Regions from separate parts of the Homo sapiens genome. Here region 1 is linked to region 2. The links come from fine-mapping of genetic effects on gene expression. Tissue or cell type: tibial nerve. Region 2 holds a variant in brackets; the other region holds the start of a gene. All regions are shown on one strand. Distances are between the middles of the regions. Region 1 holds the start of ALX4 (ALX homeobox 4). Region 2 has its middle 79 kb from the start of ALX4.

What was found. PIP is the estimated chance that this variant, and not a neighbour inherited with it, causes the effect. A credible set is the group of variants that fine-mapping cannot tell apart.
Region 1: it holds the start of ALX4, and the variant in region 2 is the best candidate, but not a certain one, in a credible set for the expression of ALX4 in tibial nerve (GTEx, PIP 0.62).

What each region holds. Positions count from the first base shown.
Region 1 is chr11:44,307,952-44,313,323 of GRCh38, reverse strand. It overlaps ALX4 (ALX homeobox 4), which reads left to right and starts at 3,185. Exons shown (of 4, transcript NM_021926.4): 1 at 3,185-3,727. The coding sequence starts at 3,262. RefSeq lists an enhancer at 2,279-3,207.
Region 2 is chr11:44,386,004-44,391,375 of GRCh38, reverse strand. No RefSeq gene overlaps it. Among named protein-coding and RNA genes, the nearest start is that of ALX4, 79 kb to the right of the region's middle. The variant G/C (reference allele first, on the strand shown) is at 2,064.

The sequences.
Region 1 (5,372 bases), 78 kb after region 2:
AGGTGGAGAAAGAAGCGGGGGTATTGCCACCACCTTCTGGGTGCCTACAGGCAGCTGCTGGGCACAGGAGACTGGAGTAGGCGGCTGGCTTGGAACTCCTTGACAAAAAAATGCATCTCTAAGCCCCTGGGAACCATAGGACACTTTCATTCATTCACTCAACAAGCATTTTATGAGTGCCAAGCCCTACAGCGAACAAGACAGACCTGGCCCCTGCTGTGAGAAAACTCACTGCTCTCAAGGCACAGGCTCAGGAAGGTCCAGCACGCTGTTAATTCCGCTACTTGATTTTTGAAGAGGGGGTGGGTGGGTGACCAGCTGTCCTTGACTAAGGGAAACCAAAGAAAGAGTCTCAGAACTTGGTGCTGCACTGAGCAGTTGGAATACACTGAGGTGATAGAGTCCTACAGCCCCAGGTTTAATCTTTATTTTATTTTATTTTTATTTATTTATTTTTTTTTTTGAGACGGAGTCTCACCCTGTCGCCCTGTCGCCCATGCTGGAGTGCAGTGGCACAAACTCGGCTCACTGCAAGCTCTGCCTCCCTGGTTCACGCCATTCTCCTGCCTCAGCCTCCCAAGTAGCTGGGACTACATGCGTCTGCCATCACGTCTGGCTAATTTTTGTATTTTTAGTAGAGACAGGGTTTCACCGTGTTAGCCAGGATGGTGTCGATCTCCTGACCTTGTGATCCATCCTCCTTGGCCTCCTAAAGTGCTGGGATTACAGGTGTGAGCCACCGCGCCTGGTCCAGGTTTAATCTTTTATTCCACAAATATTTGTGGGGTGCCAGGCACGTAGGAGGCTGCCCTGGGGCAACTAGTGGGGTTGAGATACACTCATAGCCAGGCAACCAGACAACCACGAGATCTGGGACGGAGATGAGGCAAACGGAAGCGTCAACTTAAACTAGGAGAGACGGGAAGTCTTCCTAGAGGAAGATGCTCTAGGCTGAACTCTGAATCATTAGCCAGACAAAAGTGCAGGAATGAGTTTAGGGAATTCCAGGTAGGGGAAACCACCTATGCTACAGTGCACAGGCTAGAGACCTTGGCAGGTTCTAGGAACTTGAAGAAACCGCTGGACAGGAGCATTTAGGATGATGGCAGGAGCACTCCGCTTTTTGCTAACTGGAAAATTATTTTGGTTGAGTCTCAGTCTACCCATATGCAAAATGGGTATGATAAGCCTTGTATTGCCAGATTGTTGGCACAACAGGAGCTCAATAAATAAAGGACTCTCAAGTGGCTTAGGTCTGCGGGCCAGTGAGGCGCGGTTCCCATTGGGCATGGAGTGGGGGGCGGCTGGAGCCTGCGCGCTCCTGGCTTGGTTTGCGGAATATCTTTATTAACGAGCACTTCAAGGTAAGCCGGCGATGGAAACCAGATGTGGGATCGCGCGGTCGGCGGCGGAGCAAGGACCAGAGATACTAAGGGGGTAGGGTGGGGGTAAGAATTAGCCCAGATGAGATTGGGAGCAGAAGCGCGACCCCCCAGGTATATTTTTTCTTTGGGAGACCTTAGATGCAGAAAGTTGACATCTGACCCACATTCCTTGGTTCACGGTGCTCAGGCCCTCTTTAATTTTACCTTGCACTTTTACCTCTCACCCTACTCCCAGACTCCCTAGAGGTACGTTCTCGCTTAACGATTTTCTCAGCGGTTTAAGGAAGGCTGCTCTCGCTGGTCTCCTTCAACTTGAACCATTCCACAGCCGGGGGCCAGTTTCCCCTCTGCATCTACGCTGTCCGCACGGCCTTCCAGGTCGGTGGAGGGACTAGCCTGAGCAGAGGTTCCAGGGCGCGACGGCTATTTCCCAGCTGTGTGACCTGGACCAGGTGGCCGCCCCTCTCTGAGCCTCCGTTAGCTCATCAGAAAATTGGGGGCGCCAATCTCTAGCACGGTTGTCATGAAGCGAAATCGAGGGGCTGCACGCGCAAAGTTTTTTCCCTTGCTGTGGCGGTGCCAGGGGCCTTGAGGCTCGCAGTGGTGGTGAAACCACAACCTATCAAAACCAAGCAGTTCGTTTTACAGTCGGGGGCAGTGAGGCCAGAAAGGGAAGAGACGGTCTCACCCCTCTCCCCGACCCCTGACCCCAAGGAGTGAACAGGTGACAGCGCGACTATCGGGCAAGGTCAGGGGGTCTCCAGAGTCCGCTCTCTGTACTTCGCCTGGCAGGAAATCCCCTCGCCTGGGCGCAGACGTGGGGCGTGAACGGTGCGGCCTCTAGACGGGAGCGCAGAGGGCAGCGCTCTAAAGCTTCTGAAGCCGGGCCCAGCCCAGGGCTTCTCCAGGGCTTGAGGGAGCACAGATTCCGCTACATCCCAGCCCAGCGCCCTTACAGCAGAGGGAAATAGTTAACAAGACGTGCAAGTGACCATGCACTGGACGACGAAGGCTTGTGTGTGTGTTAATCTCCCGTAGGAACGGGAATGGGGAGGAAGGTTGGAAACCTAGGAAAAGGTGCCAGCGGGAAGGCCCGCAGCGGCGCCCGCGAGCTCGCGCGCAGGAGTCCGTAGGACTCGCTTGCATCCGCAGGCCCGTGGTCCCCCTGGCTTCGAATGTCAAAACCTGTTAGGTTTATTTTGGGGGGCTTTTTTTTAACCTGTCATTAAAATTTGCATTTCCCTTTGCCCTAAGGCAAAGCTCCGACACCCCGCCAATTCTCAGCCTAGCCTCGGGAGCCCTGGGGATCCTGGCATCTCCCCAGCCCCGCCTAGAATCGGAAAAGCCCTCGGGCGCCTCCGGGTTGAATCCCCGCTAGCGAGTTAGTAGCATCTCCTTAAGAGTGGAGAGGAGGGGGCAGGGGCCAGTGGAAGGAGAGAGGAGGAGGGGACGAGAGAGGGGGAAAGGAAGAAGCAAGGCAGGGAAAAAAATTTACTTATTTTTTTTTTCCGCTGCAAAACCTTAAGAGGGTTTGGGAGATCTGGTCAACTTTCCGAAACATCTGAATCTTTTTACTGCCCTCCGTTCTTTCCCTCGGCTAGCTGTGGGGAGGGAGGAAAGAGAGAGAGGGAGAGAGAGAGGAAGGGGGGGGGAGGGAGGGGAAGAGAGAGAGAGGAGGGAGAGAGAGGAGAGAGACAGAGAAAGAAGAGGGGGAGAGAGAGAGAGGCCGGCGTGGAGGGGAGGAGGGAGAGCGAGCAGGCCGGGCAAGGAGTGCACAGCCACAGCCTCCTCGCCTCCCCAAACTCCCAGCCAAGGCGCGCGGTGGCGTCCTCGCGCCCTCGCTCGCGTCCCCGCCCGCCGCCTGCGCAAGCCAGGCATGAATGCTGAGACTTGCGTCTCTTACTGCGAGTCGCCGGCCGCTGCCATGGACGCCTACTACAGCCCGGTGTCGCAGAGTCGGGAGGGCTCGTCGCCTTTTAGGGCATTTCCCGGAGGCGACAAGTTCGGCACAACTTTCCTGTCGGCCGCCGCCAAAGCACAGGGATTCGGGGACGCCAAGAGCCGGGCCCGTTACGGCGCTGGGCAGCAGGACCTGGCGACACCCCTGGAGAGTGGAGCTGGGGCGCGGGGCTCCTTTAACAAGTTCCAGCCCCAGCCGTCGACCCCGCAGCCCCAGCCGCCGCCGCAGCCGCAGCCGCAGCAGCAGCAGCCGCAGCCCCAGCCGCCCGCGCAACCGCATCTTTACTTGCAGCGAGGCGCCTGCAAGACGCCCCCGGACGGCAGCCTCAAACTCCAGGAAGGCAGCAGCGGCCACAGCGCGGCCTTGCAGGTTCCCTGCTACGGTGAGTGCACGTGCGGGTCACCTGGTGCTGGGGACCACGGGGTGCTTGGCTTCCGCATCCCTTGAAACTGGTGGCTTGCGGGAGGTATGAGTTGGCGGGCTGGGGGCGGGGTGGTGACTCTGGTCGGTAAACGGGATCGATCGCTGCGAGGGAGCCAAGGGATCTGTTCTGTCTCCTTCTTGTCCGCCGGCCTAGGCACGGAGCGTTTCGGCTGTTAAACTCGACTTGGAGTTTGTTTTTCCCGGTCCCTTCGGCATTTCCCCAAACCGCTCGCTTTGCGCTGCCCGCTGGGCGGGATTTGAAGCGGATGCTTCTTACCGGCCCAGGGCGTGCGGCGGCAAGGAGTCTCCGCGCAGCGCTCTGGCGCTGGGCTGCGGGGCTGCGGGGCTGCGGGGCTGCGGGGCTGCGGGGCTGCGAGGCTGCGGGGCTGCGGGGCTGCGGGACAGCAGGACTGCAGAAGCCTCGCTCCTCGCCGGCTGGGAGGCTCCTCGGGCGGCGCCGCCGCAGGTGAGAGCGCCGCAGGTGCGGAGCCAGGCGGGAAGCCCGGAGCGTGGTTGGCCGAAAGCTCACGGGAAATCCAGGCGCACTGGCGCAACACAGTGCGGAGCCAGAGACCCTAGGGTCCCAGGGGACACTGTGGTCTGGCAAGACCCGAGTCCTGGGACCCTGAGCGCTACTGGCAGTGGGGATGCGGGCAGGCCAGTTCCCCTGGAGCTTCTCCCTCGGCGATTCTTGGAGGCGGCAGGCCTCTGAACAATGGTTTAGGACAGAGTAGGAAGGGAGACAGGAAGTCCCGAGTCCCAGGTGGCCCAGAGCTGTGGCAAGAGAGAAGGGTCTGGGTCCTGATTTGAGCCCACGGGGAACCCGGGGGAGCTGGCCTAAATGACCTCCAAGCTGCCTTGAACGCAGCCACAGGAGGCAGGCCTGGGCCCCCCAGAGCACAGCCACCATTGCCCGGGAGAGAGAGACACTCAAGGACGTCTCTAGCCAGAGCAGCTCAGTAGCCTAGGCCTTCTCTTCTTCCAGAGAATCGGGGTTCCTGAACCCCAAAGCGGAAGGGGAAGCAAAGACGCAGAAAGGGAAAAACCTTCTCTGGGCCAGGAGTCCTGAGCACATACCCGGAGGCCTTGGCCTTCAGGTCCGGCCCTGGTGGGAAGAGTTGGGGGCAGGGAATTTGCCCTGATCCAGGCTGATGGAGAGGCACTAGGCCTGGGGACAGAGGCTGGGACACGGCGGAGGCCTTGGTGGCTAGAATAACTTTGGGAAAACAGCCGATGGCAGATATTTTCTCGTATTCAGGTTCCTTCTTTCACAGGCGCAGAACTAGTTCATAGATGGCTGCTGACAAACATTCACAGTCATATGCTTGTCTACAATTGCACTCTACACACACACACGCAGAGAGCATCTTCTTTAGGAGCCGATGTGGTCATACCCCAAGAACACATGCCCATGTGGCCTCGAATGAGCCACATACTCCCAAACCCATAGGACAGAACTGAGAGAAGATTTAGAAAGATTCAGTGGCCCTTCCCCACTTCCTCCACCTTCCTCTTCACCTCCAGTTGGAATGAGATCAGGCATTCAGATCACAGACCCCCAAGGCTCCACACACAGACACCCACAGCTCCACATGCAGGCACAC
Region 2 (5,372 bases):
GGGTATATACCCAAAGGATTATGAATCATGCTGCTATAAAGACACACATACACGTATGTTTATTGTGGCACTATTCACAATAGCAAAGACTTGGAACCAACCCAAATGTCCAGCAATGATAGACTGGGTTAAGAATATGTGGCACATATACACCATGGAATACTATGCAACCATAAAAAAGGATGAATTCATGTCCTTTGTAGGGACATGGATGAAGCTGGAAACCATCACTCTGAGCAAACTATCGCAAGGACAGAAAACCAAACACCACATGTTCTCACTCTCAGGTGGGAACTGAACAACGAGAACACTTGGACACAGGGCTGGGAAAATCACACACTGGGGCCTGTTGTGGGGTGGGGGGAGGGGGGAGGGATAGCATTAGGAGATATACCTAATGTAAATAACGAGTTAATGGGTACAGCACACCAACATGGCACATGTATATATATGTAACAAACCTGCACGTTGTGCACATGTACCCTAGATCTTAAAGTATAATAAAAAAAATTAAAAATTAGCTGGGCATGATGGTGGGTGCCTGTAGTCCCAGCTACTCAGGAGGCTGAGGTGGGAGGATTGCTTGAGCCCAGGAGTTCGAGGCTACAGTGAGCCGTAATTGCACCACTGTACTCCAGCCTGGGTGACAGAGTGAGACCCTGTCTCAAAAAATAAAATATAAATAAATAGTATGACTCTCAGTGATCACCACCTCCTGGTGCTCATGCCCTTGTGAAATCCCCTCCCTTTGAGTGTGGATTTGACATAGTGACTCCCTTCTAACCACTGCTAAGCAACAGTGATGGGATGAAGCTACAAAAGTGACCCTCCGAAATGGGACTACAGAAAACTGTGACTTCTGTCCTGCTCACACTCTTGCTCTCTCACCTCTAGCTCTGATGTAGCAAACTGCTGTGCTGTAAGCCACTCTGTGGATGGGTCTACACAGCAAGGAACCAGTTGAACCAACAGCTTGGGAGGAAGTGAGACTTTCGGTCCAACAGCCTGGGAGGAACCAAATCATGCAAATGTCTAACTGAGTGAGTTTGGAAACAGATCCACCCCTGATTGAGCCTTAAAATGACTTTGGCTCTGGCTGACACCTTGATGGCCACCTAGTGACCCAAATGACCCAGCAAAACCATGTCCAGATTCCTGATCCACAGAAAGTGTGAGATCATAAATGTTGCTGTTTTGCCACTAATTTTGGAATAATTTGTTATGCAGCTGTAGCTAACTGATACACCAGGCTTTGCACCTGCTGTCCCCTCTGCCCAGGACACTTCACTGTCTAGCCAGGCTTCTCCTCAACAGGATGGCTTCATCTCCACTGACCATCCGAATGGTCTTAACTCTCACTTCTTCAGCCCCCTGGACCATAGTGTGTGTATTTTTTCCTAAGTGCTTACCCCACCTGACTGTAACAATTCATCCTTTAGACTGCAGGCTCCATGATGACAGTGGTTATATGTATGTCTTGTCCACTGCTGTCTCTCCAGGGTTTTGCACACTGCCAAGCACATGGTAGAGGCTCAGTAAAGATGAGGTATATGAATGGGTGGGTAGAAATTGATGAAAGAGATGCTGTTTCAAGTAGGAGTTGGTAAGGGGGGCTCGTCTTGCCCACTGCACCTCCTGAACTCCCCACATAGCCCCAGGTGTCCTCTCCTGGGCCAGCTTTTATCTAAGATTTGCCCAGCCCCTTTGGATGATGTTAAGCCACAAACAAGACTGACAAGTTTCCTGCCCCCTTGGTGCCCAGCAGGGAGGCAGACAAGAGCAGAATAAAGAGAACTTCCACTTAGATACGTGAGTTTATCTCCACTCCTTCCTAAAATTTCCCTCAAACGACAACAGCAATGAGGAAGGAAAAGGGGAAGATGCCAGGGGATGGGGTCAAAGAACTCTTGAAAGATGGAAAGTGAAAGAGAACTGACTTTGCAGACGGGAAAAGCTGAAACCCAACGGCCGGAGAGGGGAGTGCCCAAAAGAAAGAAGCCAATCTGAGCCACAAAATTCAGGAAAAGCTGGGAGTTTGATGCACCAGTGATGCCTGGAGGTGG[G/C]GGTGACACTCAGGAAAAACTGCAGCAGACAGACCCTGGATTTAGGGAGCAAGCAGGAGAGTGAAATGGAAGGAACTTCTACTCCCCTCTCCCCACGTGATTCCCAGAACCCAGGAAGCCCAAGTTTTACCCCCAACCAGGTAAAAGAGGAAAAAGACTGCGGATCCATCTCTGTAGAAATCCTCAGCCCAAAGAAAGAGACGGAGAGATACTAATTTGGGGAACTCCTAACTAAAGGTCTGGGTCCCTCTCCAATAATCCCACACAAACTGCCTACTTTCACAGGCTTCCAGCCAGCTTTACAGAGCATTCCTCCAATGCAAACAGCCAAGGATCACCAGGGATCCAAGGAATCCTCTGACATGAAAAGCAGAAAACAAAACAGGGGTGCAGGGAAGAAGAGATCGGGGAAACACAGATAAATTCAGGAAGCAAAAGAAAAAGCTGAAGAAAATTATAATTTATATCCTCGTAACATATGGGAAGATATTTCATCCATGAAACTACAGGCAGTTATAAAAAGGAACAGATTTAGAAATAGCTCTTCAAAATTAAATGTAAGAGCTAAAATAAAATATTCAATAGAAGATAGAGAGAAGGAAATAACTCAGAAAAAAAGACCAAAAAAAGATAAAGAAAAAATAAGAGAAAAAAATTTAAAGTAGTGAATTCAGCCCAGAATTTCAGCAACTAACTCATTAATTCCAGAAAAAGAGAGTAGAGAAATGGAGTGGGTGGGGAGCATTTAATATTGAAGAAATAATACAAGAAACTTTCCCCAAACTGAAGGCTGTGGATTATTAGAATGAGATGTTTTTTAGGAGCCATTATTTGCCCAGACAATGGATGAAAACCAAAATCATCAAGGGATATCATCAGGAAATTTCAAAAATCCCCAGGATAAAGAGATCCTAAAGACTTTTAGACAGAAAACACTAAATCATATGCCAAGAATCAGAATAGTATCAAACTTCTCAGCAGAAACACAAATCTCTAGAAAACAACAGAGGAATGGCCTAAAAATTCTGAGGAAATGTGACTTCCAGCCTCAGATTAAATATCCAGCCAAACTGTCAATCAAACATGAAGGTGGAATGATGACTTTTTTTGACGTGCAAATTTTTTTTAAAACTATCTCCGAGGCACCCTTTCTCAAGAAGCTACTGAAGGATGAGCTCTATCAAAAAGAGGGTGTAAGCCAGGGGATGGCAAACTATGACCTGCTGGCCAAATGCACCCCATCACTTGTTTTTGTAAATAAAATATTATTGGAAGGCAGCCATGCTCAGTCATTTATGCTTGACTGCTCTCACACAACAATGGCAGAGTCTAATAGTTGTGAGACTATGTGGCCAGCAAACCCGAGAATACTTACTATTTGACCTCTTGCAACAATGTGTGCTAATCCAAGAGCAGTGTAAACCAAGACAATGGGATCTAGGATCCAACAAGATGGAATTTTCTAGAACTACAGCTGTGCCCCCAAATCAAACAATCCTCATTGGAGTACGACATGGTGGAGCTCCCAGAGCTTTGTCTCCAAGAAATTAAAACGTGGCATTTTTGGCCTGACTCATGTGCTAGTTCATATTAAGAGACATTTTAAAGTGCTGTCAGAGAGTTTAGGGAAGAATTAATGACGGGCACATGAAAAGCTAAGAAAATGAGCACAAGAAGCAATTTAATAATTGCTGAATCACTGCAGAAAAAAACACAAAAATTATGCAATAAAGTAAACAATTCCATTATTTCATATGGCTTTTCCTCAAACAATATTTTCATAGTCATGATTATAAAGAGCTGAATAATGACTTTTATTAAAAATTGTGATAAATTATTCAGAGAGTATGGAGGGCGACTATGGTCCTGTGTGTATGTGTGTGTAAAAGTTAAACCTTCAGTAGAACAACTGTGGGTAATGTATAAAATAGAGATGTCAAGAACTTCTAATACAGGAAATATTTAGAAATCTAGAGGCAATCCAGCACTTTGGGAGTCCGAGGCAGGCAGATCATGAGGTCAAGAGATCGAAACCATCCTGGCCAACATGGTGAAATCCCATCTCTACTAAAAATACAAAAATTAGCTGGGCATGGTGGCGTGTGCCTGTAGTCCCAGCTACTTGGGAGGCTGAGGCAGAAGAATCGCTTGAACCTGGGCGGCAGAGGTTGCAGTGAGCCAAGATTGTGCTACTGCACTCCAGCCTGGCAACAAAGAGAGACTCTGTCTCAAAAAAACAAACAAACAGAAAAAGAAATCTAGAGGCAAATATTAATAGCAATAGCGGCTAAAAGAACTAAAAATGGTTGCTTTTGAAAAGCAAATAGGAGGCAGGCAGGAGGCTGCTTTTTTAATATTATATTATTTTTATCATATTATTTCACTTTTAAAGCCAAATTCATATATTACATTAATAAAATAGACACTACATCTCAACACAGTAAATAAATAATTTCCTGTTTTCAAACACCATAAAGAGAAGAAAGCAATGCTACAGCTGTTTCTCAGATGGGGTGGCCACTGAAGGCCTTTTTGAGGAGGATATCTTTAAACTTAGCCCTACATGAAAAAGGCTTGTGAGGATCTGGGGAAAGAGTGTTACAGACAGCGGGCACAGCACGGGCAAAGGCTTGGAGGTGAGACCAAGCTTGGTATGTTTAAGAGACAGAAAGGCCAGTGTGGGCTGTGTGGGGAGAGATCAAGGACAGGTAAGAATTGAACCTGAAGAGAAGCAGGGAGACCGTATGGGGTGATGTTGAGTGGCCCAGGATGGAGATGGAGCCCAGAGGGGCCACCCTAGCTGGACAGGTCACCTGGGAAACTCAGGCTTATAGACAGATGTGAAAAGCCCCAGGACTAGAAGAGATCTGAGCAAACATCAAGAGGACCTTGCTTTCAAGAGTCCCTGTAGGAAGTCAAAAGAAGAAATTCAGGCAACCTACGTAAATGCCAGAGTGATGAGCCAACAGCCCCTAATGAAGATTTCATAAATCACTTTCTCCTGCAAGCCTACCCTACTTTCAAAGCGACTTCCCACCTACTCTCAATACCTCATTTCATTCACTAACCAAACAGGTTGAGATCAGAAGTGTAATTAGAAACACAACTCCATTGCTAATTGTCCAACCTGACCAGGGGCCCCTATTAGCTTATTTCCCAATGCCCACAGGCTCAGCCTCCTCCATCCAGCTCCACTTCTTGACCTCTTGACCCTCCCTTGATTTTATTAATTCTCTCTCTGGAACTTTTTCCTTCTTCTGCCTCTTTGGTGGACCAGACACTCAGATCCCAGTTGCCTCTTGCTCCAAC